4 separate regions of the Homo sapiens genome follow, and regions 2, 3 and 4 are each linked to region 1. Evidence: fine-mapped expression QTL. A gene starts in region 1. Each other region holds a variant in brackets. All regions are shown on one strand. Distances are between the middles of the regions. Region 1 holds the start of MYOF (myoferlin). Region 2 overlaps MYOF (myoferlin). Region 3 overlaps MYOF (myoferlin). Region 4 overlaps MYOF (myoferlin).

Region 1 (8,105 bases):
ATTTGTCTTTTTCTCCCACATGAATAGGTAAAAGGCAAATTAAAACTCCAGTGAGATGCTATTATATGCTCACCAGAAGGGCAAATGTAAAAAATCTAACATTGGTTAAGTATGACAAAAATTTAGAACAACAGGAAGTCTCATACACTGCTGGCAAGAGTACCATTGTGGAATATAATTTGGAATTACCTTGTAAAGGTGAAGAAATGCATACATTCTCTGGCCCAGCAAGCAATTCCACCCATAGATTAGACTCTAAATAGACTCATGCACATTTGTGCCAGAACAGTCTTGGACTGTTCAGAACAGCACTGTTTGTAATAGCCCCATTCCCTGAACTGTCCAAATGTCTGGCAGTAGTAGAATGAATTAATCAAATCTGGAGGCCAGGCGCAGTGGCTCATGCCTGTAATCCCAGCACTTTGGGAGGCTGAGGCAGGCGGATCACGAGGTAAAGAGTTCGAGAACATCCTGGCCAACATGGTGACACCCCATCTCTACTAAAGATACAAAAATTAGCCGGGCGTGGTGGTGTGCACCTGTAATCCCAGCTACTCAGGAGGCTGAGGCAGGAGAATTGCTTGAACCCGGGAGGCAGAGGTTGCAGTGAAACGAGATCGCACCACTGCACTCCAGCCTGGGCTACAGAGCAAGACTCTGTCTCAAAATAAATAAATAAATAAAATGTCAGAAACTCATACAATGAAATGCCATATAGCAACAAGAGTGAAGGAAGTAGAGCTACATGAATGAATTTCACAATATAATACTGAGAAAAAAGAAGTCAAACACGAAAGAATCCATTCTGTATGAGTCCATTTCTATAAAGTCATAATACAGCAAAGAATTCACAAAGTATGAACACATGTATGTGTGTACCTATATATATGAATATATGTGTTGTATGTAAAGTTCATAACATACAAAAGAATTTATATCACCAAACAAAGGTCATGAGCAAGCAAACCTAAACTGTTTTGTTGTTGTTGTTTTCGGTAAAAACTACAAAGAAAAGCAAGGAAATCATTACCATAAAAATCAGGAGAGTGGGCCAGGCATGGTGGCTCATGCCTGTAATCCCAGCACTTTGGGAGGCCGAGGTGGATGGATCACCTGAGGTCAGGAGTTTGAGACCAGCCTGGCCAACACGGTGAAACCCTGTCTCTACTAAAAATACAAAATTAGCCGGGTGTGGTAGTGCACGCCTGTAATCCCAGCTACCTGGGAGGCTGAGGCAGGAGAATTGCTTGAACCCGGGAGGTGGAGGTGGCAGTGAGCCGATCACCCCACTTCAATCCAGCCTGGGCAACAAGAGTGAAACTCCATCTAAAAAAAGAAAAAAAAATCAGGAGAGTGGTTACCTCTGGGAGAAGGAGGTGGATATGATATATGGGGTATTCCAGGGGCTTCTGGAGGACTGGCAATGTTCTGTCTTGACCTGGATGCTTGTTAAACTGTCACGTTTATGTAGTATGCATTTTTCTGTAAATATATTTCACAGTAAAAATGGCAAATAGAAAGCAGCCAGATAAAATAAAAGTAATAATCTCTATATTCCACTAAAACTGCCAACATGTCCACTAAATACAATAATGAACACAGCACTGGGTAATTGGTTCTTTGCTTTAAGCCTTGGAGAAACTCGTGGAGACAGAAGAATTCTTGTAGGTTAAGTCATGCTTATTCAATGTACTTGAAATGTTTATTTACAGGTGGGTCTGCTTGATGTGTGTTCTAAAGCAAAAAGAAGCCCAATGTTTCTTCATCCCAAGTTTTAGCCTTTTCTTCTGAAATATAACGAGATCCTGATTTAAAGTCAGCCTGCACTAACAGAAACGCTGTGAGACCACAAATAAGCATGAACTTCTTACATGTGCAAATTACTGTGTGCTTTGTGCCAGCTCCTATGCTATGACCTTTATCTTATAACAGCCTTTATCCCCAGTTCATAGATGAGGAAACTGAGGAAGAGAGGGGTTAAGAAACTTGCTCGCCAGCACGGTGGCTCAAGCCAGTAAAGCTCAAGCCAGTAAAGCTCAAGCCACGGAGGCCGAGGCGGGCGGATCACAAGGTCAAGAGATCGAGACCATCCTTGCCAGCATGGTGAAACCCCGTCTCTACTAAAAATACAAAAAAAAAAAAAATTAGCTGCGTGTGGTGGCGCACGCCTGTAGTCCCAGCTACTCGGGAGACTGAGGCAGGAGAATCGCTTGAACCCGGGAGGCAGAGGTTGCAGTGAGCCAAGATCGCTACACTGCACTCCAGCCTGGTGACAGAGCGAGACTCCGTCAAAAAAAAAAAAGAAAAGAAAAGAAAAGAAAAGAAACTTGCTAAGATGACGTAGCTCAGGGTGGTGAGGCAGAGTCTCACACTCAGATCTGGCTGACTAACCCCAGGCCGCCTCTTGTGATCTCAGCCAAGCTGCACTGTCTTCATGCACCCTCTGGGACAGAAAGACACCATGGGCAGCTGTAGGTCCAGAAACAGTGGGGAGTCACTTCTCCATTTTCACTGAAGGCAATTGGCAGCATTTGAAGAGCCGGGAAAACTTAGGCGCCCAGCTCTCACCTCTGAAGGGGTTTTGAAGAAATTCTATGTTCAGTCCTTTATATATATATATATATATATATATATATATATATATATATATATATATATATATATATAATTATTTATACATATATGTAATTATTTATATATCCCATGCCTGGATCGCGTTTACTTGAAATAAACGCTGTCATTCGTTTGCCGTCCAGTAAGAGGCACCCTTTAGCTGCTTTAAAAAAGCTGAACATAGGGTTACTGAGTGGGTGTGTTCAATGGCGTGAGAAGTAACAGCGAAAAGTCAAAAGCAAATAATGACTAAAGTTTTAAAACTCCTTGAAACTCAGAAAAGAATGAAAGCAGTGACGGAAAAATCAATTAATTCAGTTTCACGAACCATTGCTAAAAGGCAGCAACATTTTAGTGGTTTCCTGACCTACCCGTATTTCTTAGCTCCAAATTCATGTTGGTTTCATTTGTCGCACGGAATTATTTTTAGTTTAGGGTTTGTCCTTTTCACTTCCACATTTCCCGAATTCATAAGTCTGTGCCTGCGGCACTGCGTAGACGCGGGGAGTTCGGTATCAGTTTACACGTTGCCTTCAGTAAAATCCGCCAGAGGTCCACCCATTTTGCCTTTTCCCCTTCCTTGCCCTGGGAGAAATCCTCCCTTCACTGGGAGAGAACTTCTCTCCCAGGGCGGTGCGACCCGGAGCTCCAGCGCCCTAGTCTCCACTTCGTTTGCTGAAACTTGCTTTCTACCAGCTAAGAACCATGCTGCGAGTGATTGTGGAATCTGCCAGCAATATCCCTAAAACGAAATTTGGCAAGCCGGATCCTATTGTTTCTGTCATTTTTAAGGGTAAGAAAAAGTTTTCTTCTTTTTCTGAAGTCCTGTTTTGGAATGTTAGTTTCTTGAGTCACCTTCTTGAAAAGTCTGCATTTAGACAGCTGATGAAGCCAAGTCTCTCCAGCAGCGTTTGTTACCTGCGCAGGACAGGGGAGAGGACCCGTTTCTGGGGAAGGCATTTAATTTTCTCCAGGGCTTGAGACTCATGGAATGACCTGATGTTTTAGCTCTAAGAGTGTGATTTCTGTAAGCTCTTGGCAGAAAACGTATTTGCGAATCACTAAATTTCAGGTATCAACAAACATCTGTATTGGTTCAAAGTAAGTTTCAGTAGTCTTAGATGCATTTTTTCTCTGCCTGTGAGAAATGGGTAAAGGAGGAAGAAGAGCAATTAAATTGTTGGAGACACCATTACTCCTTGAACCAGCCTGACGCTGCTTTGATTGTCACTGGGTTTCTGGGAGGTGGGATGGGTGAAGTTCATAGTTTTATTGAGTTTTCCTGCCCTTTTGTGCCTTTGTAATTGTTTTTATATCTAAACTGTTGGGGAGCTTTTTTTGTACATTCTGTAGCTTTTAAATTGCTCATTGAGGAAAGAACTCTGGACAGCTAGTTTGCAATTTGGGGATCTAGTTCTATCTTGCCTGCTGAATGACCTTGGGCAAGTTACTTCATTTCTCTGGGATCTCAATTTTCTTTTCTGCAAAACAGGCGAGAAGGGTTTAGACAAGATCATCTCTAAAAACCTCATGGTTGGCTGAGCACAGTGGCTCCTCAACCCTGAGCCAACTTTGGGAGGCCAAGGCAGGAGGATTGCTTGAGCCCAGGAGTTTGAGGCTACAGTGAGCCGTGATCACGCCACTGCACTCCAGCCTGGGTGTAAAAATAAATAAAAATAAAAGGCTCATGGTAATTTTAAAAGGCTATTTTTCTATGACACTTGATTGCCATTGCAGGGGAGGGGACAGGAATGCTTGGTGTCATGGTACAATTTGATGTAAGTGACTTAGTTTTGGCTAAAGTGGGGTTTCTAAATCTCAGTGTGGAGGCTTTATCTATTTTGTTTGTCATTGGTAAGACTGCCAACTCACTTCTTGGCAAGAGGGATGGGAAAGAGAGGGAAAGGCAGAGAGAGTGGGAGCATGGATAGACATGTGTTTCCTGACCATGCCTTGCTACATTTCTCGTTTCTTCCAGGAGCCTGACTGCTACTCCCTGTCAGTTCCTGAGGCATCTATACCTTTCGCCTTTCTGTTTCCCGTTTTTCCCCTTTATTTCTCTTCTTAAACCTCTCTCTCTGAGGATGAGCAAGAAAATGAAAGAAATGAAACTCAAAGCTGGCTGGCTGGGTGTGGTGACTTCTGCCTGTAATCCCAGAACTTTGGGAGGCTGAGGTGGGTGGATCACATGAGGGCAGGAGTTCGAGACCAGCCAGGCCAACATGGCAAAACCCCATCTCTACTAAAAATACAAAAATTAGCCGGGCATGGTGGCACATGCCTATAATCCCAGCTACTCGGGAGGCTGAGGCAGGAGGATTGCTTCAACCCAGGAGGAGGAGGTTGCAGTGAGCCGAGATCATGCTACTGCACTCCAACCTGGGCAACAGAGTGAGACTCCGTCTCAAAAAAAAAAAAAAAAAAAAAAAAAAGCTGGCAAATTGTTGGTTGGTTAAAAAAAAAATCTAAAGGGCAAAAATTGGATTTAAAAAAAATTTAAAAAAATTTTTTTGAATAAGACTGGGTCTTGCTATGTTGCCCAGGCTGGTTATAATTCCCTTGCTCAAACTTTCTTCCCATCTCAGCTTCCCAAAGTGTTGGGATTACAGGCGTAAACTACCACGCCCAGCTTAAAATTGGGCTCTTAAAGGACAATGAGGTTTGAAAATCTGGCTAGTGAATATCATGGACTCACGTTATGTCAGAGTTTATTTACATGTGTTAGGTTTTATTAATTTTTTGTTTTCTTGAAGCAGTTACATAATAGAGACATAATATGAAGATTTTACATCCTTCATCATTGACATATAAAGACATTAAAATATATTTGGATCAGTCCGATCATGTAATTATTTAAGTATTATAGATTATAGAGGAATTGGAGTTAATACTATATTGAAATCTGACTTGTTATTTGTCTGGAGTTTGTATGCATTGATGAAACATTTTAAATGATGAAAAATATATCTAAGTCAATGAATGCAAACAATCAATTGAAAGTGGAAAACTTCAGTTAAGTTGGCAAATATAGTCTATACAAACAATTACACATTTAACTTTAGTCTCTTTTCTGGCCTCCTTTTTTCATACAAATCGAGTGGTAAAGTCATTCATTCATTTAGCTAACAAGCAACCTGACAGAGGAAAGGGCACTCAACTCAGAGTAGGAACATCTGCATTCCAGCTGACATTAACTCAATATCTGATTTAACCACCTGGGTCTCCAATTTCTCAGCTGTGGCATGATGGGAACTGGTCTTTAGATGCCTTCCGTCTTTTAGATTCTAATTTTCTAGTTCCAGGTATTGAGTTAGCTGCTCTCAGCAAGATGTGAAATGCATTGCCTTAGGTGCTGGAGGGGATATAGCAACAAACACAGCACTCTTCTTGCTTTCAGTCTATGTCGGTGGTTTAAAATCCTGGTGATGGCAAACCCTTTACAGGTGTGTTCCCAATTTTGAGCACTGCGTAAAATTAAGTAACATTAAGTTCTGACTGAACTGAGGATACTTATAGCAAAATACTGTCCATCAGAGGGAACATGGAACAAAGGCAGACACACTTCATAGTGTGGAGTGGGGCAGGGTATGGTAAACTGGAAAAAGCCCTACCATGCCTGTAGTCCCAGCTACTCAGGAGGCTGAGGCAGGAGAATCACTTGAGCCTGGGAGGCGGAGGTTCCAGTGAGCAGAGATCGCACCACTGCACTCCAGCCTGGGAGATAGAACGAGACTCCATCTCAAAAAAAAAAAAAGGAAAAAGCCATACCAGAAGATCAAGGCGGCATCAAAGAAAGTCCCTGTGTTAACAGAAATATGTAAACATTTTGCCTCTTGGGTAAATAAACAAAGTCAGGGCAGTAAGCAGCTCTTCTCAAACTATAAGACGGTGAAGAATGGCCAGGGGAAGTGATTGTTAATGGTGAAGCTCGCATAGACACTGTGAGGCCCTATTAGGCTATAGCTACACTGTACTTGGGATTGTGCTGTACTGACAACCAACTGGTTTACAGTTGACCTCAGTTTTTCGTGTTCAAACCCTTTCTTTCTTTCTTTCTTTTTTTTTTTTTTTTTTGAGACTGTTTCACCCTGCCATCCAGGAGGGAAGAGTGCAGTCAGTGGTGTGATCATGGTCTCGAACTCCTGGGCTCAAGCGATCCTCCCACCTCAGCCTCCTGAGTAGCTGAACTATAGGCACACACCACCATGCCCAGCTAATTTTTAATTTTTTTTGTAGAGACAGGGCCTCACTCTGTTTCTCAAGCTGGCCTTGAACTCTTGGGCTCAAGCAATCCTCCTGGCTTGGCCTCCCAAAGTATTGGGATTACAGGTATGAGCGCCCAGTTGTGTTCAACCGTGAGTGACCCTTCTGAGGCTGTCAAATTACTCAGGGCCTGGTAGGAACTAGGAGGATCTGGGGGTTGCTGTAGTCCTGGTGCATGGTTGTTGGTGATGTTCAGCAGCGCAGGTGTAGATTATGAAAGCCACAACGCTTATGTAATTTTTCATATCCTTCGGGTACACCAGGTTCCATGAGCCAGATCCGAATTGAGGCTGGAGTGAGTGCCTGTGAGCCAGGGGTGGCCATTCTGCCCTAAGTTCCATGCGGACAGCCAGGCTGTGAAGCTGAATCTAGCTGAGATTAGACTACACAGACCTCTGAGACCAATTTCAACTCTGAGACTTGATGATTCTTCCAAACAGTCCTCCAAACAGAACAGGTTGTTAAAAAACTTTTTAATTTTAAATAATATAATATTTTTAATTTCTAAAATTAAAAATGCATGTAGACATAAGATAAACAACCCAGAAGGGATTATGCAACTAAAAAGTGAAAATTCTCCCCACACCTCTTCTATTCTTTCTCTCTCCCACTGTTAGTCCTTCAGGGTCACCACTCTGAACAATTTGATTTGAATCCTTCTTGATCTTTTGCTCTAGACATATAAGTTGTCCCAACTACTGCCTGTTAGCAACAGTACTGCAGTGGGTGTCCCTGTGGTGCGTGTCTTTGTGAATATGCATATTTCATTTTTATTTATTTATTTATTTTTTAGATGGAGTCTCGCTCTGTCACCCAGGCTGGAGTGCAATGGTATGATCTCGGCTCACTGCAACCTCCACCTCCTGGGTTCAAGCGATTCTCCTGCCTCAGCCTCCTAAGTAGCTGGGATTACAGGCGCCCGCCATCACGCCCGGCTAATTTTTGTATTTTTAGTAGAGACAGGGTTTCACCATGTTGGTCAGGCTGGTCTTGAACTCCTGGCCTCATGATCCGCCTGCCTTGGCCTCCCAAAGTGCTGGGATTACAGGCGTGAGCCACTGCGCCCGGCCATGAATATGCACATTTCAAAAGCACAGCTTCTATCTTTGTGTGTGTTTGTGTGTGTTTTTCTTTTTTCTTTTTTTACACAGAGTTTCGCTCTTGTTGCCCAGGCTGGAGTGCAGTGGCATAATCTCGGTTCACTGCAACTTCCACCTCCCGGGTTTAAG
Region 2 (8,105 bases), 81 kb after region 1:
GTGCTTTCTTGGAGTAAAATTAGAGTCACTAGACACTAATAGAGCTAAAGATATTAGAGAAATTTAAAACACACTCCAGGTCATGCCAGCTCTAAGCGCTCATTTTGATAAGCATTGCAGCATGAAGTCACCTTGGATCTTTTTCCCTTTTTTTTTTTTTTTTTTTTTGAGATGGCCTCTCACTATATTGTCCTGGCTGGTCTTGAACTCCTGGGCTCAAGCACTCCTCCCATCTCAGCCTACTGAGTGTTGGGATTACAGGGGTGTACCCCGATACCTGCTTAGCTTTGGATCTTTACATTATTTAGCTTTTAGATATCTAGCCCCAGGTGAACAATTTTCTTTAGTTAAGTAAATGCTATATTTGTTACTTACCCTTTTCTCCTTTTTCCAACATGAAGAAGTGGGTTTACCATGAAGCTTAAACTGCAGGGCTTAAACTCCAGGCCTTGCCATGTGTTCACATGGTCAAACCTAATTTTGAATTTGTGTTTTGCATTTTTTAGGAGGGCCCCCAAAATTATAGTATCAGATTCCCCTAACCCGAATCCCCTGTTAACATTTAAACATCTGCTCTATTGTTTTGGCAGTTGTTTTTCTACAATGTCAACATGACCCCTTCTGAATTGATGGATGAGATCATCAGCATCCGGGTAAGGGTCAGCAAGTAGGAAGGTACTGCTCACTCACTGCCAGGCAAAGCCAATCATTTCTTCACTACTCTTCTTTCTTCCAGGTTTATAATTCTCACTCTCTGCGGGCAGATTGTCTGATGGGGGAATTTAAGGTGAGTGACAACAGTCTGCTTCATTCAACTTACAGAAAGATGAGAACTTTCATAATAGAAATCTGATTCCTATGTACGCATCTTGGTGGCATCTTGGGAATGTGTAAGGGTTCAGCATGATGACACTTGCTGAAGGCTGCTTGGGGCTTGTCTATTTCCAAAGTATAACAGTGAACAGAGCTCTCAAAGCAAGATGCCCTGAAGCTGCCATATCAGGGCCCTTCCCAGGGTTGTATCTGGATGGAAGCAAATCCACTGCCACAAAGGGAAGGGGTGTTGACCATGGCAAGAAGTCCACCATCTACCTCCACTTACTGGGGGCCCCAAAGCTCCATCTGCAAAGCCAATTATGGTAAATTCAGAGTGTGAAAGGAAAGCCAAACAAGGCAAGAGGTTCAGGGTGCTTCTATAAGTAGCTCTCACTGGAATGAAAGGACAAATACTTGGTTGGCTTCTTCCCAGCAATTCTACATGGAATAGGCTGCCTCTCCAAGAAAGGAGCACCAGTCACTAGAAGTCCTAGAGGATGATCTGGGTCAGGCAGACCTGTGTTCATACCCTGTCTGCCACCAAGTAGCCACATGTCCCAGAGGAACTCAATCTCTCTGATCCTTAGTTTCTTCATCTGTAAAATGGGATCATTGAGAAAATTAAATGAGATAGTATGTGTAAAGCACCTAGTACAGCACCTGGCACATTGAAGTGCCCAGTCAATGGTTATATTAATAGTAGCATTAGCTGGAGGAGAAGGAGGAGGAGGAGGAGAACTGGACAGGAAATTGGGCCAGGTGAATTTCTGTAGGATGACCAATGGTCCCACTTTGCCTGGGACTTTAGTGGTAAAACTGAGGATAACCCAGGCAAACTGGGTCATATTGGTCACTCTGCTTCTGTGGTCCCTTCCAGCCCTAAGACTAGCTCATTCATTCAATAGTGACTTACTGAGGGTCTTCCATGTGCCACACATCAGACAAGGCACTGGGGATACAGAGAGGATAAGACGGAAATGTTGGGTCTCAAGGAAATTTAAGTGTAATCAAGACATGATATTTAAATATAATGATGGCTTCTTTAAAGTGACTAGACTGATTTTAAAATCTACTTAGACTACTTTCGATTATTGTTTTCCCAGATTGATGTTGGATTTGTTTATGATGAACCTGGTAAGTAATGTTCTCCCCATCAATATGAAGTCTTAAATTCATTCCTTCTAACTCTGAAGATGATTCTAAGAATCAAGACAATTTGGGGGGGATCAAAGAATTAAAGTTAAAGGAATTTTTTAAAAAATATTTTCTTAATGAGGGAGAGGAGAGGATACTTAGTGGGAATAAATAACAGTAGCTTAGAAAAAATGTCTAATTTTTTATCTTAACATTCAAAATAGATGATTTCTATGTTTTGTGAGGATATTTTGATCTTATCAAAATTAAATTATAAAACTCGTTGGTACAACTTAGAGAGTCTTGTTTGAGTTACACGAGGACAGAATGGTGGGGGTGGGGTGTAGGGAGAGTACAAAACAGAAGACGTGAAAGTGGACACTCATCTGGGGAATTTGGTGTGTCGTGAAGAGGCTTCCAAGAAAATGCAGCTTATCTTATGGCAGAGGAATCACAGACTTATCAGTACCTTTTTAGCATGTCCATTTCCTTTTACTCCTTCTCTATTTTAGGCCATGCTGTCATGAGAAAGTGGCTTCTTCTCAATGACCCGGAAGATACCAGTTCAGGTTCTAAAGGTTATATGAAAGTCAGCATGTTTGTCCTGGGAACCGGAGATGAGCCTCCTGTGAGTCCCTACATTCTCTACTTTCTACACTTCTCACTAAAAAAGAAGGCCAAGAGTTAAGCATGTGGGCATGGGTAATTGTGAAATGGAGCACAGCTTCCCGTCAATACCCTCAGATTCCCCCTATTCTTCAGAAGCTGTTCTTTTCTTCATCATGGAATTATTGTTCTAGCTTACTTAAACTCTTATCTGATGTCTATGAGTGAGCATTTAATTGAGAATCGATGAATGTGTTTTTACAACGTCCTTGCCTCATTAGAAAGACTGCTTTTATCTAGAAAGCATGACCTACTTGCAGAATTAGGCATTGCTACCTAAATAGTTAGTGATTATTCTAGGAAACTGGGTGGCAAACTGCAGAATATAAGTGGCCAGAGAGAAGTTGAAGGGACATCAGGATCACACACACACACACACACACACACACACACACACACACGCACAGGCTCTTACTATTTGGTGCTCATAAAATGACAGAATGATACAAAAACATGAGCATTGATTTTGTGGAGCAGTTTTGAGGTTGAAGGAAAACTGGTGGCTGATGGCAGGCTGAACTCTTAAGCCCCAAACACAGGAAATCTTAATGGAAACGATTCTGAATGGTTTCATTTTATAAGCATTAATTTGGCTTTTTCCAAGTGCTGCTTTTCTGTATGTATAATTTAAATCATGTGCCCCTAATAGCCTGAGAGACGAGATCGTGATAATGACAGTGAT[G/A]ATGTGGAGAGTAATTTGTTACTCCCTGCTGGCATTGCCCTCCGGTGGGTGACCTTCTTGCTGAAAATCTACCGAGCTGAGGACATCCCCCAGAGTATGTACTGATTTAATCTTGCCCCAGAATTGTTGATTATGTGTGTGATGAAATGTGTTAAAAATCAAACTTTAATAGTGATTCGTGTCCCTATCGTATGTTTTTCTTCTGAAAGGGCTTCATGGGCTTATTTTCATTCATTCTGGCCCAGTTGAAAGCTACCTGAGCAGGCTCATGGCACAGCTAGTTGGTTGCTGATCATGTTCCTTGTTGAGTACCTGCCTTTGGCCCATTTGACTCTCTCTCTTGCTATTCTATATCTTCTCTTTATTCTAGAGGATGCTAAAGAGATATGAGCAGTCAGCACTTCCAACCCCTTTTATCCCAAATGAAAATGTGAACTGTTATTATCAAATCAAGGTGTTTGCTATCCAGCTATAAAAAAAAAATAGCAGAAATTAGCTGGGCATGGTGGCGGGTGCCTATAATCCCAGCTACCTGGGAGGCTGAGGCATGAGAATCACTTGAACCCAGGAGGCGGAGGTTGCCGTGAGCCACACCACTGCACTCCAGCCTGGGCAACAGAGTGAGACTCCATCTCAAAAAAAAAAAAAAAAAAAAAAACATGCTGAGCAAAGGGTAGTAATGTCCCAATGACTAGAAGTCTGCCACTATTGTATTATGAAATATATTCAGCAAGAGACTGGTTGCATTTAAGGGATCGCTTCTAGTGATTCCATTTATAGGAACTAGTGTGGTTATCCCTCTGTCACTGCTGATGGCCCAGCCTCCTATTTGCCTTGCTGGGCCTGTCTGGTTCCTGCTGGGCTCTGGGACATGGGACCCTTCTCCAAGTCCCCAGGAGGCTGCACTCACTATACAGGCCATGGATCTCTTCAGGATTTGCTGCTTTTCTTGGGAATCCTTTTCCTCTTTTAAGATCCTATGGTCTTAAAAGATAGTATTGTAGGGCCTCCCCATACCCACCTTTCTCTCAAAAATGTGTCAAATGGGCTGGAGGCAGTGGGTCATGCCTATAATCCCAGCACTTTGGAAGGCCAAGGTAGGAGCACTGCTTGAGGCCAAAAGTTCAAGACCAGCCTGGGCAACATAGCAAGACTACTGTCTCTATTTAAAAAAAAAAAAAAGAAGAAGAAGAAGAAGAAAGAAATACATAAAATAAGGTAAATTAAAATCCTGATCTCTATTTACTTTTTAGCTTAACTATAGATTGTAGTTGATTAAATATATTATTTGTGATTATGTCAAATTTTCTTGAATTTCTCTGAAACAGACTAGGACTATATCATTTTGACCTAGAGCACCTTTCTCCCAATTGAAAGCAGGCCTGAGTTTGAGAATCATCTTTTACTCTCACTGAATGAACTTTGTTGTATTTTTTTTCCTCCATAAAAGATCAAGTTTTTGTTTTATTTTATTTTATTTTGAGATAGAGCCTCACTCTGTCACCTAGGCTGGAGGCTGGCATATACTGGCTTGATCTTGGCTAACTGCAAGATTCAAGTGATTCTCATGCCTCAGCCTCCCAAGTGGCCGGGATTACAGGCATGTGCCACCACACCTGGCTAATTTTGTTTGTTTGTTTTGAGATGGAGTCTTGCTCTGTCACCAGGCTGGACTGCAGTGGTGTGATCTTGGCTCACTGCAATCTCCGCCTCCCAGGTTCAAGCAGTTCTCCTGCCTCAGCCTCCCGAGTAGCTGGGATTACAGGCGCGTGCCACCACACCCAGCTAATTTTTGTATTTTCAATAGAGAAGGGGTTTCACCATGTTGACCAGGATGGCCTTGCTCTTCTGACCTCATGATCCACCAGCCTTGGCCTCTCAAAGTCCTGGGATTACAGGCATGAGCCACTGCGCCTAGCCTGTTGCAACTATTTTGATGTATAAGAGAACTTTTAAAATTTTGCCAAATTTCTGGGAATTGAATTTAATTTCTGCTGTATAACTATTACCTTCCAGTGGATGATGCCTTCTCACAGACAGTAAAGGAAATATTTGGAGGCAATGCAGATAAGAAAAATCTCGTGGATCCTTTTGTAGAAGTTTCCTTTGCTGGAAAAAAGGTTTGTACATGATCTAAATGCAGATGCTGCTAGTAATAAATATCTAAAACTACTGTGCTTTCCTTGGAGTGAATTCCTGCTTACTCTTTGTTAAAATAGCCCCCTGATGAGCCAGGCACTCTGAGGGAACACAGATTATCTGAGTCTGAACACGCCAGACTTCTCCACAGGTTTATTTTGGAGTGGAAAGTATGCAGAACACAAATTAGAAAATTCAATCTTTTGAGAGATTAAAATAGGGAAGGCTACCACTGAATTTCTGGAATTGCTTTTCAGGTCCAAACGTTATCTTAACCTTAGGCAAGCTCTCTGGCCAGCCACACCCATCCCTGGTAAATGTTGTAGGACAGAGACCCCCCCCCAGTGCCCTGTTGCCCCTTCCTGTCATGTTTCTCACCTTCCATGCCCCAGTAAACTGTTGAAACCAGAGAATGGGTCAGGGAAGCCCCATCCCACTCCCCTGAAAATATCTGGGAGACTCTTGGTGTAGGGACAGCTATAACCACCACTTTTACCTACAGAGATGGTCAAAGATTGGAGAGTTGAGAGTTGGGTGAGATTCTACAGTAGAATAATAGCACATCATGGACAGTTATAGACAAAAAGAACTAGCATCTTTTATGTGTTCGAACCATATAATTATGAAAGCAAGATTCGGCAAACCACATACACATACACATATGACTGGTGCTTTTTTCTAAAAGATTCAGTGGGTGTGGTAGAAAAGCCTTCAGCTCTGGGGCAAAATGAGGCCTGAATTAAATTCAGGCTTTACCCCACTTCATAGGCAGGCAAATCGTTTACCCTCTGAGTTTCCATTTCCTGAACTATAAAGGGAGATAATAACAATCACAGGATTGTTGAGAGGTTTGATTCATTCAAAAAGTCATTAAGTACCAGATTCTGTCCCATGTGCTGGGATATAGAAACGAACACATGGGAATAGAAGAGACAGACAATAAACAAGCAAACAAGAAACTGAATAATTTTAAATGGTGCCCAGTGCTACAAAGAAAACAAAGCAGGGACAAGAAGTGATTGGTGCAGGGGAGGAGTGTTTATCCAGGTTATCAGGTGAGACTCCTGGAGAAAGTGACAGTTGAGCAGAGGCCTGGATATGCAGAGATTGGGGAGGGAGGCATCCAGGCAGGGAGAAGGGCGATGGAAGGGCCCCAAGGAAGAAAATGTTAGCAGGGAAGGCCTGCCCATGTGGCTGCGGTAGAGCCAGCAAGCGGGGAAAACTAGGAGGTCAGTGAGAAGTAGGGTTGGGACAGTAGGGCTTCATCAGCCCAGGGAAGGATTGGGGCTTTATTTGAAGTGTACTTTGAGGGCCCCCTGAAGATGTTACACAGAAGTGACATGAAAGTCAGGAGGCAAGAGAGGGTGTGGAGTTCAGATAGACAACCGCAGGTGTCCTGGGGAGAAACATTTCAGGATCAGCTTGAAGACATTCCAGGATCTGCTTGAAGACGGAAGTGTCAGGGTGTGGCTGATTCTGGTTCTGAGCCTGACCACCTGAATGAAGAGCGATGGAAAGACTGGAACAAGAGTCAGTTTGGGGTAGAGGGCAGGGAGGCTGGCGGGCAGGGTCAAAAGATCTGTCTGGATGTGTTAATGGTAGATGCTTCCCAAACGGTATGTAACAAATGCTCTATCAACCTTATCTCTTGCTTTTTTACATTAATCTAATGTTAGAAGCCTGACAATTGAAAACTAATTAAAAAAAGGTTAAAAGCAAGCTCCTAGTGCCTCGAAACAGCAATGATTAATATTAAACCCATGTCATATTTTACAAATCATCAAGAAAAATAAAGTTTAACCAGGTTCCTAAGTATATAAGTAAACTGCTAAAGTCATAATCTAGTATGCATAGATTGTAAACTTTTAGAAATTAGAAACTTGAAAACCTACACTTTTGCTTTGGTGATTTTACAGGTTTGTACAAACATAATTGAGAAAAATGCAAACCCAGAGTGGAATCAGGTCGTCAATCTTCAGATCAAGGTTTGACTTTATTTTCTTTCTGAAAAAGTAAGAATACTTACTTAATAATTACTAAATCATTGAGAAATAACTACTTTTTTCTGTCTCATTTTTTTAGTTTCCTTCAGTGTGTGAAAAAATAAAACTAACAATATATGACTGGTGAGTTGAAAATACGTATGTGTCTAATTCAACATAAAATAAACATTGGATATTGTGAAACATTACTCTGGATTGTCTCTTTCTGGTATTTTGCTTTCCTTCCAGAGGAGAGGATAAATTGCTCCTGGAACTGGGCGTTTCTTAAAACAAAATTTAATAATAGTGTTACTGCAAAAAAAGCTTCGATTATTTCGGTTCAACTGCTCATAAACAAAAGAAGGGGAACGTGCTGAAAATGCCCCAAGATAAGAAATCAGGGATTTAATTATCATTAGGCTGTCCAGAATAGACTTCAGAAATACAGTCAAGCATTTCTTGGGAAGAATCACCAAAACATTCTGAGAGCAATTCATTGTTATTGTTTAAAAAGAAAATGGTAAAACTACCTCAATGAAGGCAAGGAAAAGTCCTTGAAATGTTCTGATAGAATTTTTAGTAGACCAGCCTTCTAGCACTGATTGGCCATAACAAGACCATTCTTGGAATGTTCTAGTTGGATGTAGCATTCAGCAGGCACCCTTAGCTCCCTGACAGTGGAAACA
Region 3 (8,105 bases), 68 kb after region 1:
TGGGTGGACAGATGCCATGTAGGCAAGTGTCATTATCACAAGTGACTGCACACAAGGGCAGTTGGCAGGAATATTGCTGCTGAGCGTCTGGAAAGAGGATCACAATACATCTCAGGAATGATTACATTGCTGGAGCTATGATGGAGAACCATTTCCAAATGTTAGCGGAAACATCACAAGTAAAGAAGAGTGGATCACATGCAGTTACTGATATTCAGAAAGGAGACAGGTCAGTGTTGGATGCAGTGAGAAGCTTTGTAGGATTTGACCAAGTGACATTATAATTATTGGAGAGGCAGGATGGCATTCCTACAAGGGAGTTGTGAAGAGCTTGTCATAGCCGGAGATGGACAGTGAGGAATCTTGAACCACTGTGAATCAACAGATCTGGATTTGAGCATTGGCTCCACTATCAAGCTGTGTGACAGTAGGCATGTCACTTAACCTCTCTGAGCCTCAAGTTCCTTTCTTACAACATCAGGAGGTTGGATTTAATAATATGTAGGGTCTCTTCCAGCTCCGAAGTTCTATGATTCTATTAAAATGGCCTGGTCATGGCCGGGTGCAGTGGCTCACGCCTATAATCCCAGCACTTTGAGAGACTGAGGTGGGTGGATCACTTGAGGTCAGGAGTTCAAGACCAGCCTGGCCAACATGGCAAAACTCTGTCTCTATTAAAAATACAAAAATTAGCCAGGCGTGGTGGTGTGCGCCTATAGTCCCAGCTACTTGGGAGATTGAGGCTGGAGAATCCCTTGAACCCAGGAGGTGAAGGATGCAGTGAGCCAAGGTCATGCCACTGCACTCCAGCCTGGGTGACAAAGTGAGACTCTGTCTCAAAAAAAAAAAAAAAAAGCCTGATCAAAGCCAGGGTTCATATATTATAAGAAGATGGGATGAGAGAAGTTTCTTTTTCTTTTTCTTTTTTCTTCAGATGGAGTCTCGCTCTGTTGCCGAGGCTGGAGTGCAGTGGCGCGATCTCGGCTCACTGCAACCTCTGCCTCTGGGCTCAAGTGATTCTCCTGCCTCAGCCTCCCGAGTAGCTGGGATTACAGGCGCCTGCCACCACACCTGGCTAATTTTTTTTTTAAATTTTATTTTTAGAGAAGGGGTTTTGCCCTGTTGGCCAGGCTGGTCTTGAACTCCTGACCTCAGGTGATCCACCCGCCTTGGCCTCCCAAAGTGGGGATTACAGGCATGAGCCACGACGCCCGGCCGAGAGAAGTTTCTTTGGTGATTACTTCTGTTTGCGAATGCCAGGATGAGCAGCTGCGCTTTGGTTCAAATAGGCTGAATCAAAGAGCAGAAAGTGTTTCAAGGATTAAATGAACAAATGCTGCAGAAAGTTTGAGTAAGAAGAGACCTGAGGCTGGACCGTTGGATTTTGCAACATGAAAGTCTTTAGTGGCCTAGACAAGAGCAGTTTTGGTGGACTAGGAGGGCAGAGGGCTGGCTGGAAGAAGCATGAGAATCAGAGACAGAGTGAAGAATGTGAGTAAAAATGATTCTTCTGAGGAGTTTGCTCCCAAGAGGGGCAGGAAAAATGGAGCAGTAACTGTAGGGGGCACCGTGGAGTCAATGAAAGTTTTGTTTTTTAATATTCTGGGTGATATTTCAGCGTGTTTATATTTTGATGGGAATGATCCAGTAGAAAGGGGGAAACCGATGAACGTATAAAGAGGCAAAACTCCTTAAGTAGCAACAGGAGATAGGATCTGTGCAAATGCGGAAGAGTTGGCTTCAAGTCAGGGAGCACAGATAGTTCAGTGACTAATTGTAGCAGGAGAGAAGGCAACAGATACAGGTAGATGATTGATTTGGAGTTGGAAAGATGTGGAAATTATCTTCTAATTGCCAATTTTCTCAATGAAATAAGAAGCCAGGTCATTAGTGGACAATGAGAAAGATAGAAAGGGTGTTGGAAGCTTTCAAGATGCAAAACAGGTGGCCGTTCAGAAAGGTAAAGTGATTTGACTGTGCTGGTTAATTAGTGGCCATCTCAGACCAGGATTCAGGAAAGTTTTGGGATAGATATCTTGGAAATGTGGTAAGATGGCCAGGCAGCCCTGTGAGGACACTTACAGTTTGTGATCAGGAAATTAAAGTGAGATCAGTCCAGTGAGATGTGTGTGCTTCCCAGCCAAGTTCAGCTGGCTGGGTGCAGAGGTGAAGTCAGTGGAGGGTTGAATAAACCAGGTAAGCACAGTGAAGTGAGAGGGGGAAAGGGATCGAGGGGCATGCAGTGGGGTGGTTGCAGTGTTAGGTGGCAGGATCTAACCTGGGGTAGGGGTAAAGCAAAGACATGGAGGAAGTGGGGTGCAGGGAAGGCAGTGTGCTCATTAGATTGGGGCTGCTTGTGGGCTGGAGTAAGAGAGGAAGCAAATTGGAAAGATACAAAAGATGGCCTCTCAGCCAGGCGCGGTGGCTCACGCTTATAATCCCAGCACTTTGGGAGGCCGAGGAGGGTGGATCACTTGAGGTCAGGAGTTCGAGGCCAGCCTGGCCAACATGGCGAAACCCCGTCTCTACTAAAAATACAAAAATTAGCAGGGCGTGGTGGCAGGTGCCTGTAATCCCAGCTACTCAGGAGGCTGAGGTAGGAGAATCACTTGAACCTGGGAAGCAGAGGCTGCAGTGAGCTGAAATTGTACCACTACACTCCAGCCTGGATGACACAGTGAGACTCCACCTCAAAAAAACAAACAAACAAACAAACAAAAACACAAAACCACAAAAAACAACAAAAAAGATGGCCTCTCTAGTGGACTGAATAGTGGCCCTCTAAAATGCATGTCTATATGGAACCTCAGAATATGACCTTATTTGGAAACAGGGTCTTTGCAGATGTAATTAGTTAAGATAAAGTCACACTAAATTCAGTGACTGTAGTTTCTTGTTTGTTTGTTTTGTTTTTTGAGACAGAGGCTCTCTCTGATGCCCAGGCTGGAGTGCAGGGGCATGATCTCAGCTCACTGCAACCTCTGCCTTCCAGGTTCAAGCGATTCTCCTGCCTCAGCCTCCCAAGTAGCTGGGACCACAGGTGCACGCCACCACACCTGGCTAATTTTTTAATATTTTTAGTAGAAACGGGGCTTTGCCATGTTGACCAGGCTGGTCTTGAACTCCTGGCCTCAGGTGATCCACCCGCCTCAGCCTCCCAAAGTGCTGGGTTTACAGGTGTGAGCCGCCAAACCTGGCCCACTTGTTCTTATGAGAAGACGGGAGGACACAGAAGGAGAAAGGCTGTGTGACCACACAGAGGCAGAGACTGGAGTTATGCAGCCACAGGCAGGGCATGCTCAGGATTGCCGGGAGCCACTGGCTAGGAAGAGACAGGAAGGATTTTTCCCTCGAGGCTTCAGAGAGAGAACGTCTCTGCCAACATCTTGATTTTATACTTGTAAGGTTTGGAACTGTCGGGGAATACATTTCTTTCTTTTCTTTTCTTTTTCTTACCTTTCTTTTTCTTTCCTTGCTCTGTCACCCAGGACAGAGTGCAAGGGCATGATCATGGCTCACTGCAGCCTCGACCTCCTGGGCTCAGATGGTCCTCCCATCTTAGCCTCCCGAATAGCTCAGACTACAGGTGTGCACCACCACACCCGGCTAGTTTTTAAATTTTTTTTGTAGAGATGGGGGGTCTCCCTATGTTGCCCAGGCTGGTCTCAAACTCTTGGGCTCAAGCGATCCTCCTGCTTCGGCCTCCCAAAGTACTGGGATTAGAGGTGTGAGCCCCTGCGCCTAGCCAGAGAATACATTTCTATTGTTTTAAGTCACCCAGTTTGTGGGACTTCCTGCGACAGCCTTCAGAAGCTAATACAACCAGCAGCTTCCTGTTCAGTGGGTGATTCCTGACTTGGTGTGGCCCTCTGTGGTTGTGAAAGAGTTGCTCTTTGTAGATCCACTTGGCTGTGGATCACATTCAGGCCTGGGTCTCACGAACAGGGCCTGCCAGCACAACTGCTAGCATTTCACTCATGACACAGCTTGCACATCAGGGTGTGTTTAACAGTGCCATAGGGGCCCCCTCATTCTTTGTGGAACCCATAGCATTCTTTGTGGAGCCCGTACCATTGTTTAATCCTCTGCAGCTTCCTGCCACATAAAGGGGAGGTTTCCTGCTTGAATATTCTTCTGCTGCAAGGCACAGAGGCTGGCTGTCACCATGGCTTAGGCTGGTTTCCTCTGACCCATCCCTTTAGCCTAAAGTCTGAATAGCAGAAGACGTTCTTTGTTATCTGCAGGCTGATTCTAGAGCATCCACTGAGAATGTAATAAGTACTTGTCCAGAGTCCAGCATTGCAAAGGGGTATGATTGACCCCGACTTTTTCTCCTGCTTACTGCCATAAACAATCACCAGCCTAAAATGCTGTAATTATGGCAAGGAGGAAGTACAAATCACCAGCCTAAAATGCTATAATTATGGCAAGGAG[G/T]AAGTACCACTTAGGCCCAGGATGATGGAAGGAAGTTCGTCTTCGCTGCTTGGAGGAACCCAACAGCTGTCAGCCCCAGCCATTGCTCGGTCCAGGACAGGTTTACCGAGGGGAAGCGCCTGGCCCCCAGTGCTTCCCCGAGGCTGGTGCCAAGGTTGGGAGGAGCACCCCTTCAGCCATCTGGGTGTTCTTTCCTGAGAGTTGTTCAGTAGTTTTTCCAAATGTGAAGGCACATTTGTGCCTGGGATCCTGTTCCCCTTCCCATTTGTTTACTCATTCCACATTTATCAAGCACTTTCTATATACTTTGTGTAATGAGTTCTGTAAGGCATGGGGCAGAAACAAAGAAGCAAAGGCAAGCTCCTTGCTTCTGAAATGCCTGGGAGTAGGGGAAGCCTATGGGTTGACAAGCAGGTGCAAGACTATGTGGTGAGGACTAGAAAGAACAATGTGTGGCGGGTAGGAGAGAGCGGGACTAACTCCATCTGGAAGAGGTGGGGAGGGCATGTTGGAAGACAGTAAGTTTCATCTGAAACTTAAGAAGGAGAGGAACTTACCTGGTAGAGAGTAGGATGAAGAAGATTCCAAGAGCTTGGATCCAGGTGCCCTAAGAGAGACAGCAGGTAAGCCCTTCTTTTGAAGTCTCTTCAAGAATAGGCAAGAGGAGGTCCAGATCATCTTGCAGAGGACAAAGATTCCTTATCTTTGACTTCCATGAGGTTTTCCCAGTAGCCTGAAAAAGATGTTGAGGTACTAGGAGCATAACATGTCCTTCACCTACAGCCTGGTTTTAAACCCAGTTTTATACCAGAGAGGCAGTGTGAAAACTTGGTCCTGGTTTTAGCTCAGCTTCTAATAACTTAACCACAGGCAAGTTGCCTTAGCTTTCTGGACCTCAGTTTTTCTGTCTGTAAAATGGGGTGAAGGGTAGGTTGGATCAAGGATCTCTAAGGTCCCTTCTAGGACAACATTCTGTGGGTCCATGGCTACTTGAAGGAAGTGTGAAGTGAGGATCTACAGAGTGTTGAGTCAAAGGATCAGAGGACAGAGTAGGGAGTCACACTCAGTGAGTAGGAGACAAAAACAGGGGCCCACAGAAGAACCTGAAAAAGCAGATCGGGGGAGGAGAGCTGCAATGATCTAAAAATATGTATATGAGCACTGGTGTCCAAGGCTGTGGAAGATCCAATATGGAGATACAGAAAAGGGCACGGAGCTTGGCAAAGAGAGGTGATTGACTTTTGAAGAACAGAAGCCAGGCTAGGATGGGCGAAGCATGAATGAATGGATGATGAGGAGCAGGGCCCACCCTGGGCTAAATTGCAAAGCAGTGCATGTGGAGGCCCCCTTTTCCCTTGTGGCTGCCTCTTCCTCACTTTGGGACCCCTGCCTGCTGTGCTGCCCATGGACTGCTCCAGTGCCCCATCCCCACACCCCCCATAGCTGGTTCCAGGAAGTGTCCTGTGCTCCAGAAGAAGCCCCTTCCAATTGCAGTGGTCTGAATGGTTGTGTCCCTCCACAATTCACACATTGAAATCCTAACCCTGAACGTGATGATATTAGGCAGTGAGGCCTTTAGGGAGGTGATTAGGTCACGGGGCCAGAGCCCTCATGCATGGGATTAGTGCCGTGATCAAAATGGGCTCAAGGGAGCTCCTTTGCTTCTTCCATCATGGGAGGCAGAGAAGGCTCCAACTGCAAACCAAGAAGTGGGCCCTCACCAGACACTGAATCCGCCGGTGCCTTGATCTTGGACTTCCCCACCTCCAGAACTGTGAGAAATAAATTTCTGTTTTCTAAAAGCCACCCAGGTTGTGGTATTTTGTTATAGCAGCCCAAGCAGGTGAAGACACCAACCAAAACTGATTACACAGCAAAACTAAAAAATAAACAGTTAATTTATTGGGTGCTTCTGTATGCCAGATACTGTGCTAAAGGCTTCGCCTATAGATAATTACACCTTTACAGTAACCCTGTGGTAAATACTATTATTTTCCCCTCTTTACAAATGAAGAAACTGAAGCTTAGAGAAATTAAGAAACTTACTCAGACTCACATAGCTCGAAAGTGGAGGGTGGGGAGTGGATTGAGCCTAGGCCACGTGGCTTCAGAGCCCAAGATTTCAAGAGCTATGCTACATAGTAATCTGATGAAACTCATTCATACCAGGATGTGAATGACTGACAGGTGACTGTCCTTGGAAATTAAATCTCTTTCATAATCTTGCATCGTAGAGAAGGAGTTTCAGAATCCAAAAGCAGGGTTCTAGACAGGGTGGCTTGTCTTCTAGGCTCTCTTAGATTATATTGTACAGATTACCAGAAGTTCTAACTCTTTGTGTATTAAGAAAAGAAAAGCTAAAGTTTGTCAGCGAGTTTCAAAGAGCTCGTGAATAAAAGAAAGAGGAGAGGTAGTAGGCAGAGTTGATTTTTGGTTTTTGGTTTTGTAGGGAGAGAAAGATCTGTGTCTACTTGAAGGCAGAGGAAAAGCTGCAATAGAGACGGAACCCCCAGAGGTACACAAGAGAGAGGAGACATTTGGGGAGCCTGAAAATAATCAGGAGGTAGTAGGATCTGCAAATATTCAGGAGGTAGCAGGATCTAATGCATGGCAGAGGGTTGAGATTTTCACTCTGCTGAGCAGGGTAAACCTTTTCCTGAGTGCAGAGGGAAGGTAGAGGGATAAAGGAGGGGACACGTGTGTGTTAAAGTGACAAACCAGGAGGAGGAAGGAAGAGCAAGATGATCACCTTGGTGCTTGGCAAGAAAATGAGGAGAGTTTCTCTTCTGCCATTAGGGTGGAAAGAGCAGTTGTGAATTAGGAGGCTCAAGCAGGAAACAGTACAAATAGATCACGAGCAGATCTCTAGAGAGAAGATCTGCAGTGGGAGGGATGGAGTTGAAGCTTGTCATTGCAAGACTGCAGTGTTCCGTGATGTTTCTTCCTTTTTCCATCCTAACACTAATGAGAACTCAGCAATCCCTGGCTGGGTCCAACGGTGCCATCTCCTCTCATTGTCCCTGTGATCTCTGCCATTCTCTTGGTCTCTTCGAAGGCAACCTGAGCAACAGCCCCGATGTACTGTGAACACATTTTCCTAAAGAATTTTTCCAAGTCACAAGAAGTCCCAAGTCAGTGTCACCAAGAGGATCTCCTTCACCTGCCACTTTAGGAACACTTAAAACATAATGGCAGACAAAACCGTGTCCTGGAAACCTGAGCCTTTGGACATTTACAGGATAAGGGCTATCCCTCACTGGGTTTCTTTCTGATATTTTAGGAGATGGGGAAGAAGATGAAGGTGATGAAGACAGGTTGGACAATGCAGTCAGGGGCCCTGGGCCCAAGGGGCCAGTTGGGACGGTGTCGGAAGCTCAGCTTGCTCGGAGGCTCACCAAAGTAAAGAACAGCCGGCGGATGCTGTCAAATAAGCCACAGGACTTCCAGGTAGCAACGGCCTGGCGTTCTGCTTCTTTGTTTAATCTTTATATTGCCCATCTTCTGGCAATTGCAGTGATGTTTCAGTGGACCTATTCCAATGGACAATGGCTCAACCGGTAAAGAGAGATGTCAGTGTATAAACCCAGTAAGAAAAGCTCTCCATCTTTCTTCTGCAGGCACAAGTGGGTTTAGTCTAGCCAGCTGATGGTCTCCAGAGAAATAAAACTATA
Region 4 (8,105 bases), 21 kb after region 1:
TAAATTATAGAGGGTAATTTTGCTTTACTTAAAGTCAACTGAGTGTAAATGTTTATCACATCTACAAAATACCTCGACAGCAACATCTGGACTTATGTTTGACCAAACAATTAGACACCACCATAGCCTAGCCAACTTGACATTAAAATGAACCAGCGCAGCTGACCACCGGCACAGATGTAGCAAGCCAGTCTCAGGAGTCCTGATGTCTTTCAGGCCTTTTTTTTTTTTTTTTTTTTTTGAGACAGGGTCTTGCTCTAACACCCAGGATGAAGTGCAGGGGTGTGGCCACTGCAGCCTTGACCTCCCAAGCTCAAGCAATCCTCCCACCTCAGCCTCCTGAGTAGCTGGGACTATTGGTGCATGCCAGTATGCCTGGTTAATTTTTAAATATTTTGTAGAGATGGGCCGGGTGTGGTGCCTCACGCCTGTAATTGCAGCACTTTGGGAGGCCGAGACGGGTGGATCATTTGAGGTCAGGAGTTTGAGACCAGCCTGACCAAAATGGTGAAACCCCCATCTCTACTAAAATACAAAAATTAGCCGGGCATGGTGGTGGGCACCTGTAATCTCAGCTACTCGGCAGGCTGAGGCAGGAGAATCACTTGAACACAGGAGGCGGATGTTGCAATGAGCCAAGATTGCACCACTGCACTAGATCCTGGGCGACAGAGTGAGACTCCCTCTCAAAAAAAAAAAAAAAAAAAAAAATTTGTAGAGACGAAGTCTCACTATGTTGCCCAGGCTGGTCTTGAACTCCTGGACTCAAGCGATCCTCTGGCCTTGGCCTTCCAAAATGTTGGGATTACAGGTATAAGCACCGCACTGGGCCAGGCCTTTTCAATAAGGTTCTGACACACTGGCTGGTAGGTGAACAGCAAAGGAAATGGTTCCGCGCAAGAGGGCGGGTGGTTTGGCTAAGAGAGCTGTTCAGTTCTCCCGGAAACCTTGTTTGGAGGCTGGCATTGGGGTTAATTACTGCAGTGGTGACCTCCGCAGAACTGAGTGAGAGGCAGGCGTAGCTAATCGGAAAACAGGAAATGTCCTGAAGAACGACTTGAGCCCTTGAGCACACTCAGAGTGTGCTCTGCATTTGAGTCAGTTGTTATGTTCTGAGCTGAAAATATTTTATTGCTTTCCATAGGAAGAAACAGTCATCTTAATAAAATTAGACGCAGGAGCCAGGTTGGGGGGTAGGTAATGTGGAGAAAGGGGAGGGAGTTTCCTGTAATTCAATTTGATGTTCAGTGCCTGCAGGTTTAACCTTTTTTTTTTATTTTTACAGAGGTAGAATAAAATAATTGACTAATATAAATATGTGACTGGCTGCTGATAAGAAAAATAATTTATCTACTTTTTTTTTTTTTGCCTGATGTGTTTATGTGTGAGAATAGGTTTTCAATAAAATGTAACATATACACATTTTGATAAACATCAGAGCCTCCTTCTTGAAAGAGATTGAGCTGGGTTTCTCCAGAAGGGTAGGAGCCAATGCCAGCCACTTAGTTTTTCCTTATTAGCTAGGGAAATGGGAGGTGCAGTGGTTAAATGCATGGGCTCAGGAGTCATACTAGACCTGGTTAGAGGGCTTCGTCCTAGCCCTGTGATCTTGAGCAAGTTACCTAACCATTCTGGGCTCTCTTTGCTTCTCTGCAAACTGAGGATAATAAAACAGTGCCTACGTCATAGGCTTGCCAGGAGGATTCAATGAAATGATGCATGTAAAGGGCTTAGCAGGCCGGGCACGGTGTCTCACGCCTGTAATCCCAGCACTTTGGGAGGCCGAGGTGAGCGGATCACTTGAGGTCAGGAGTTCGAGACTAGCCTGGCCAACATGGGGAAACCCTGTCTTTACTAAAAATATAAAAATTAGCTGGGTGTGGTGGCACACACCTGTAATCCTAGCTACTCAGGAGGCTGAGGCAGGAGAGAGATTGTAGTGAGCAAAGAGCGTGCCATTGCACTCCAGCCTGGGCAACACAGTGAGACTCTAACTCAAAAAAAAAAAAAGGTGGGGGGCTTAGCAATGCCCAGCCTGCAGTGAGCATCCCCTAGAGGTAATGCCATTAGCATCAACCTCACACAATGAGTGCCAGGAGCTGCAGGAAGTTCTGGTTGAATAGCTCCACCTGGTCTGTGGTCAACTGGCATCTGCCTGGACTCAGCCACTCCCCTTTGTTTTCAACACACAATTGAATCATGTGTTCAGGAACATGCATTGGGAGAATTGTTGGGCCACTTGGTTTTTCTCATGAGTTATAAAATTTTGAAGTTATAAAATCCAGTTTCTAATACCCTCCTCCTTTAAGTACTTATATCAGCCAAATGAAGCTTAGCCTGGTACTTGAGGCTTCACAGTGAGACCATAACCTTCCCACAAAGCCCGTTTGCCCCCTACCCAGTTCTATGCTCTTTGGTTCCAGCTGGTTGGGTCCTGGAGTGTCCCCAGATGTGACATAACTGGTTCTCCCTCCTCCATGCCTGATCCACCCACCCTATTGTGTCTACTGGAGTGAGCTCGTCTTCTGGCTCCACATTTTCAACCCCTCCTTGCCCTTGAATTCTCATCTAGCTCAGCCTCTGCATCTTCTGTGCACACAGCCTGAAGTCACCTTTCTTTCCTCTGAATTTTTCTGTGCATTGATACCCCTCTGATAGCAACTGAAGTCCTTTCTCTATCAGTCCCGTATAGCCACATTTCCTCTCCCCACTAGACCCCCTGAGGGCAGGAACCATGTCTTGGGTATTTTTGTGTCTCCTACAGTGCTCAATGCCTGGCAATTTCACAAACATTTGTTGGGTGGAAGAATGAAGGAGCTGATTAATGTTTGCGGAAGAACTCACTCAGTGAACCATTTCTGTGGGCTGAGCTGTGAGGTCTCTTGGCCTGAGCTGACCAGTCATTATTTCTGTTTATTCCCCCTCTGACAGGCAGGAAGAAACTTCAGGATGAGAATGAGACAGGCAAAAGCCTGGTGGAGCTTTGTGCTATTTCTTTTCTTTTCTTTTCTTAGATGGAGTTTTGCTCTTGTTGCCAGGCTGGAGTGCAATGGCGCGATCTAGGCTCACTGCAACTTCCGCCTCCCAGGTTCAAGCGATTCTCCTGCCTCAGCCACCCGAGTATCGGGGATTACAGGTGCCCACCACCATGCATGGCTAAATT[T/G]TGTATTTTTAGTAGAGATGGGTTTCACCAAGTTGGCCAGGCTGGTCTCAAACTTCTGACCTCAGGTGATCCGCCTGCCTCAGCCTCCCACAGTGCTGGGATTACAGGTGTCAGCCACCGCACCTGGCCTGTGGCACTTTTTTTTTCTTTTTCTTTCTTTTTTTTTTTTTTTTTTGGAGATGGGGTCTTGCTCTGTTGCCCAGGCTGGAGTGCAGTGGCTTGATCTCGGCTCACTGCAACTTCCGCCTCCTGGGTTCAAGCAATTCTCCTGCCTCAGCCTCTCGAGTGGCTGGGACTGCAGGCGTCCACCACCATGCCCGGCTAATATTTTTTGTATTTTAGTAGAGACGGGGTTTCACCCATGTTGTCCAGGCTGGTCTCGAACTCCTGAGCTCAGGCAGTCCACCCGCCTTGGCCTCCCAAAGTGCTAGGATTACAGGCGTGAGCCGCCATGTCCAGCCAGCCTGTGGAACTTTTTAAGACTAAGAATTATCTTACACTCTTCTGTTTCCTGTTACTGGCACACAGTGGATGCTTAATAAATGTTTGTGAATGAATGAATGAACAAATGAATCTTTTCACACTCCCCAGCTGCTGACTCTGGAACAATCCTGTGCCTCCTGAGGGCAGAGAGGATCCATGGTCCCAGGCTTGGCCTCAAGGTAGCTTGCAGCGTGTCTTCCGTGTTCTCTGTTTCCTGGGTCAGGAACCAGGCTTGGGACTTGTTTCATGTTGACAAGCGCTGGTTTTTTCTGTGACCTCCCTGGAGCCCTTGTCCCTGCCTTGGCTCCCTGGTTGGAGTCTTGGGGACTTGGAGACTGGAATTTTGCTTCAGTGCCATCTTTCAGTGATGCAAATCCTACCCCAAGCCTGGGTGCTCAGTTTCTATTGCATTATTTTCTGCCTTCTCCTTGCTTTCCCTTCTTGCTGGGACTTCTTGGAATCTCCTATCTTCTCTCTTGAAGGACCGCCATGGTCTCAGGGTCCAGATCCACTCCTTTGAGACTCAGTTCTCCACCCCCCCAAGCCCCGGTTATGGGAGCAGGGTAGTGGTAAGGTAGAGGGAGATTGGTGGTACTATTTCATGCTTGTTGAATGCTGGGATTCCTAACCTTTTTCAAGCACATTTGAGAATCTGATGAGAACAATGAGCTCTTTCCTCCAAGAAAACTCACAGATGCAATATTTTGTGTATTAGAGCAAATAATCTTGGAGAGTTTCAGGATACCCTGGAACGCAACCATAAACTTCCTTATGGACATTTTCCAAGACGCCAAGCCCATCACATGTGTTACATTTACGAATCTTCATTATCCAGCATTTCTGACAGCTTCCAATAAGGCACTGTGGCATGGTGGCAAACACACACAAACACAGATTTTGGAGCCAGAGGGATGTAGTTCAAAATCTGGCTGTTTCCTTATTAGCTGTGTGATTGAAGGCAGGTTAACTACTCTCCATTTTCTTGGCTTAGAAATGGGAATGACCATGTTTACCTGGAAGAATTGTCTCAATGGTTAGAGACACTGTGGTAGAATGCACAGCCTGGCACCTAGAGATGATTCTGTAGAGGGAGCAGCTACAATTACACATAGAAACCATTTTGTCCAGTTCTATTTAAGTTAAAAATTCTTTGCATGTCTCCTGTTTCTCTCAAGAGCACTTTCTTATACTGTAACCAGAGAGGAGGATTGGGAGTTTCTGTTAGATGAGGAGAGGGAAGGGTGGGGTCAAAATGGAAGTGTGGGAGGGGAAGTTTCTGGACAGCGTCTAGGGGACCTCAGAGTCAGATGCAGTGAGGGGCTCTGTAGGCCACATAGAGAGAGCACAGGCAGAACCAGCCAGGATAGGTCTGGGCACAAGCCGACGAGGAGCGTCACGCTGAAGCTTAGGAAGGGAAGCCATTGGGCTGTGTGTTGCCCTCTCAAGTGGAAAAGTTAATGCTTAGCAGAGTGAGGTCCATGACTCACGGCCTTGCTATGCTGAGGTCTTGGAAGAATGAGGTGGTTAGTCCCACAGGCAGCTGTGTGCTGGGAGCCAAAGCAATGTGACATTAGCTAAACAAAACCCACTACCTCCTACATTCCACAGCAGCAGAGGAGAAGCAAAGGCTGAGGAGTGATTCAAAGTGTGGCCACTAATGTGAGACTGCCTGGGTCTCAAATCCTAGCAAGACCATTTATTAACTGGGTGACTTATTTGTTTTTTGTTTTGAGACTGAGTCTCGCTCTATCCTTTAGGCTGGAGTGCAGTGACACGATCTCGGCTTACTGCAACCTCTGCCTCCTGGGTTCAAGTGATTCTCCTGCCTCAGCCTCCCGAGTAGCTGGGATAATAGGCACCCATCACCATGCCTGGCTAATTTTTGTATTTTTAGTAGAAGTGGGGTTTCACCATGTTGGCCAGGCTGGTCTCCTGACCTCAAGTGATCTGCCCGCCTTGGCCTCCCAAAGTGCTGGGATTACAGGTGTCAGCCACCGCACCCAGCCAACTGGGTGACTTTGAATGTTACTCAGCTTCTCAGTTTCCTTAGCTGTGAAAGGGGGATGAAAATAGTAATATATACCTCCTAGGGTTTGTTTTTTGTTTTTGGACAGGGTCTTGCTTTGTTTCCCAGGCTGGAGTGCAGTGGTGTGATCTTGGCTCACTGCAGCCTTGACCTCCTGGGCTCAAGGGATCCTCCCACCTCAGCCTCCTGAGTAGCTGGAACCTATAGGTGTGTGCCACCACACAGAGCTAATTGTTGTATTTTTGTAGAGATGGGGTTTCATTATGTTGCCTACGCTGGTCTTGAACTCCTAGGCTCAAACAATCCTCCCACCTTGGCCTCCATAAGTGCTGGGATTACAGGCGTGCACCACCTCACCTGGCTTCTCCTAGGTTTTTAAGATTAGATGAATGCCGGGCGCAGTGGCTCATACCTGTAATCCCAGCACTTTGGGAGGCTGAGGCAGGTGGATCACTTGAGCTCAGGGGTTTGAGACCAGCCTGGGCAACATGGCAAAACCCCATCTCTAGTGAAAAAAAAAAAAACATAGAAAAATTAGCTGGGTGTGGTGGTGTGCACCTGTGGTCCCAACTACATGGGGCGCCGAGGTGGGAGGATCTCTTGAGCTGGGAGGCAGAGGTTGCAGTGAGCCGAAATAGTGCCACTATACTCCAGCCTGGGCGACCTCGCGAGACCCTGTCTCAAAAAAAAAAAAAAATTAGATGAGATAATGCTGACAAAGCATTTTGTACTCGAAGATTAGCTTTTATTTGGGTAGGTATTTGGGGACTTGGGGACCCAAAAGAAGCCTCTGCTCTTTGGACTTTGCTACAAGGAAACTTTAAGCACTTGCTGGATTTGCTCGTGTGCTCATCCAGGTAGGTGTACTGTCCAGGCTCAGACACAGAGAAGAAAGATCTTGTGTCTTCAGAAAAGGTGGCCTCGGAGTAAAGGAAGCCCCAAATTATCCGCTGGTCTTAGAAAGTTTTCATCTACTAATGACCTTGTACCGAAGCCTATGGGAGGGAGTCCAGCTTAATATTGAAGCTGTGTTGGCATCTTAGCACACTCAGATGCAGCATGAGCTTCAGAGCTGAAATTCCAGGTTTAAATCAGGGCATCACTGCCAGGTGTGAGCTCAGATAAACGTCTTAACTCTTTGAGCCTCAATATCCTCATCTATAAAATAGCAATATCAGCATCTCAGAGGTTAGCTTTGTTGGCTTCTTTCTGCAGCAAGCCAGAGATGCAGAGGCTCTGGGTAGCCTTGGTGAGAGAAGGGCAGAACATCACATCCCTTAACTCCATGTAGACCTGGAGATGGGAAAACCTTGTAGACCAAAAAATGCCATTTCATTTGGAAAACTGTGATTCAGGTAAACACCCATCCTAAGCGATGAATGGGGAGATGTGGGTGCAAGTAGACCCTTGGGTAATGTTCTTAGAATAAATGAATGGCCCACGCTCTTTAATTTTTTTATAAATGATTGCTGTCTCTTCCTTTATCTCTTTTGCAGATGAGAAAAAGAAAACAAAGAAAGTTGATAATGAATTGAACCCTGTCTGGAATGAGGTGACTTCATTGTTTTTTCAACTTTGTTTTAATAGATAAGCTATTTCTGATTGTCCTATCTTTGGGTGAGAGGTTACCTCTTCCCTTCGGAAGGAGAATCTCTACATTTCACCCCCACCCACTCCGTTTCCCTTTGTGTTCACCAAGAGAGCAGAGCAGTTCAAGGAGAGTAGCTCACCAGCGACCATCTTCTGTACAGCAGTGGCGCGGCAAGGGAAGCCTGGACTGGCAGGAGAGTTGAGTTCTTACCAGGCACCGCCACGAGCTTGCTGTGTGAGCTTGGTCCACTTATGTTGCATATCTGGGGCACATGTGCAGAGCAAGGGTGGGATTAGATCATCTCCAGAGTCTCAGAAGGAAGGCCTCATAATTAAAAACATGTCTGCATGTGACAAATCAAGAGTGTATCACATGATTCTCTGTGTGTCTAGCTGGGTAATGACATGTATTGGTTTTATGTTGATAAAAGTGATGTCCAGTATGCTTCATGTGGAAACTTTTGAAAACTTCAATTAATCTTTAAAAAATTAACTTGGGTCCCACTCTCTAGAGGCAACTACTATTAACATCTGTGATGTATCACTAAGTGTTTATTGGAGGAATATATTTAATGAAATACGACATCTGATAACACAAACTAGCAGCATATAGCAAATGATTTCCTCTCCTACACTTTCTTGCTATTATATCCTAAGCATATGCCCATATTAATTCAAAATTATTTTAATAATTCAAAAGTATTTTAATTCAAAAGCATAAAATTATTTTAATAATTCAAAAGCATAAAATTCAAAAGTATTTTAATGACTGTGCAATATTCTACTGAAGACATATAACTTATTTACCTCCCCCCACTGTCGACCTTATATCTATTTTAGAAG

The links.
Region 2: its variant is fine-mapped to the expression of MYOF in whole blood (INTERVAL, PIP above 0.99).
Region 3: its variant is fine-mapped to the expression of MYOF in whole blood (TOPMed, PIP above 0.99).
Region 4: its variant is fine-mapped to the expression of MYOF in gastroesophageal junction (GTEx, PIP above 0.99).

What each region holds. Positions count from the first base shown.
Region 1 is chr10:93,477,408-93,485,512 of GRCh38, reverse strand. MYOF (myoferlin) reads left to right here and starts at 3,179. Exons shown (of 54, transcript NM_013451.4): 1 at 3,179-3,406. The coding sequence starts at 3,319.
Region 2 is chr10:93,396,705-93,404,809 of GRCh38, reverse strand. MYOF (myoferlin) reads left to right here. Exons shown (of 54, transcript NM_013451.4): 8 at 591-653; 9 at 737-787; 10 at 1,920-1,950; 11 at 2,463-2,578; 12 at 3,266-3,392; 13 at 5,315-5,418; 14 at 7,354-7,422; 15 at 7,520-7,563. Among named protein-coding and RNA genes, the nearest start is that of MYOF, 82 kb to the left of the region's middle. The variant G/A (reference allele first, on the strand shown) is at 3,299.
Region 3 is chr10:93,409,349-93,417,453 of GRCh38, reverse strand. It overlaps MYOF (myoferlin), which reads left to right. Exons shown (of 54, transcript NM_013451.4): 6 at 7,715-7,881. Among named protein-coding and RNA genes, the nearest start is that of MYOF, 69 kb to the left of the region's middle. The variant G/T (reference allele first, on the strand shown) is at 4,435.
Region 4 is chr10:93,456,001-93,464,105 of GRCh38, reverse strand. It overlaps MYOF (myoferlin), which reads left to right. Exons shown (of 54, transcript NM_013451.4): 2 at 7,169-7,224. Among named protein-coding and RNA genes, the nearest start is that of MYOF, 22 kb to the left of the region's middle. RefSeq lists an enhancer at 3,684-4,306. The variant T/G (reference allele first, on the strand shown) is at 3,164.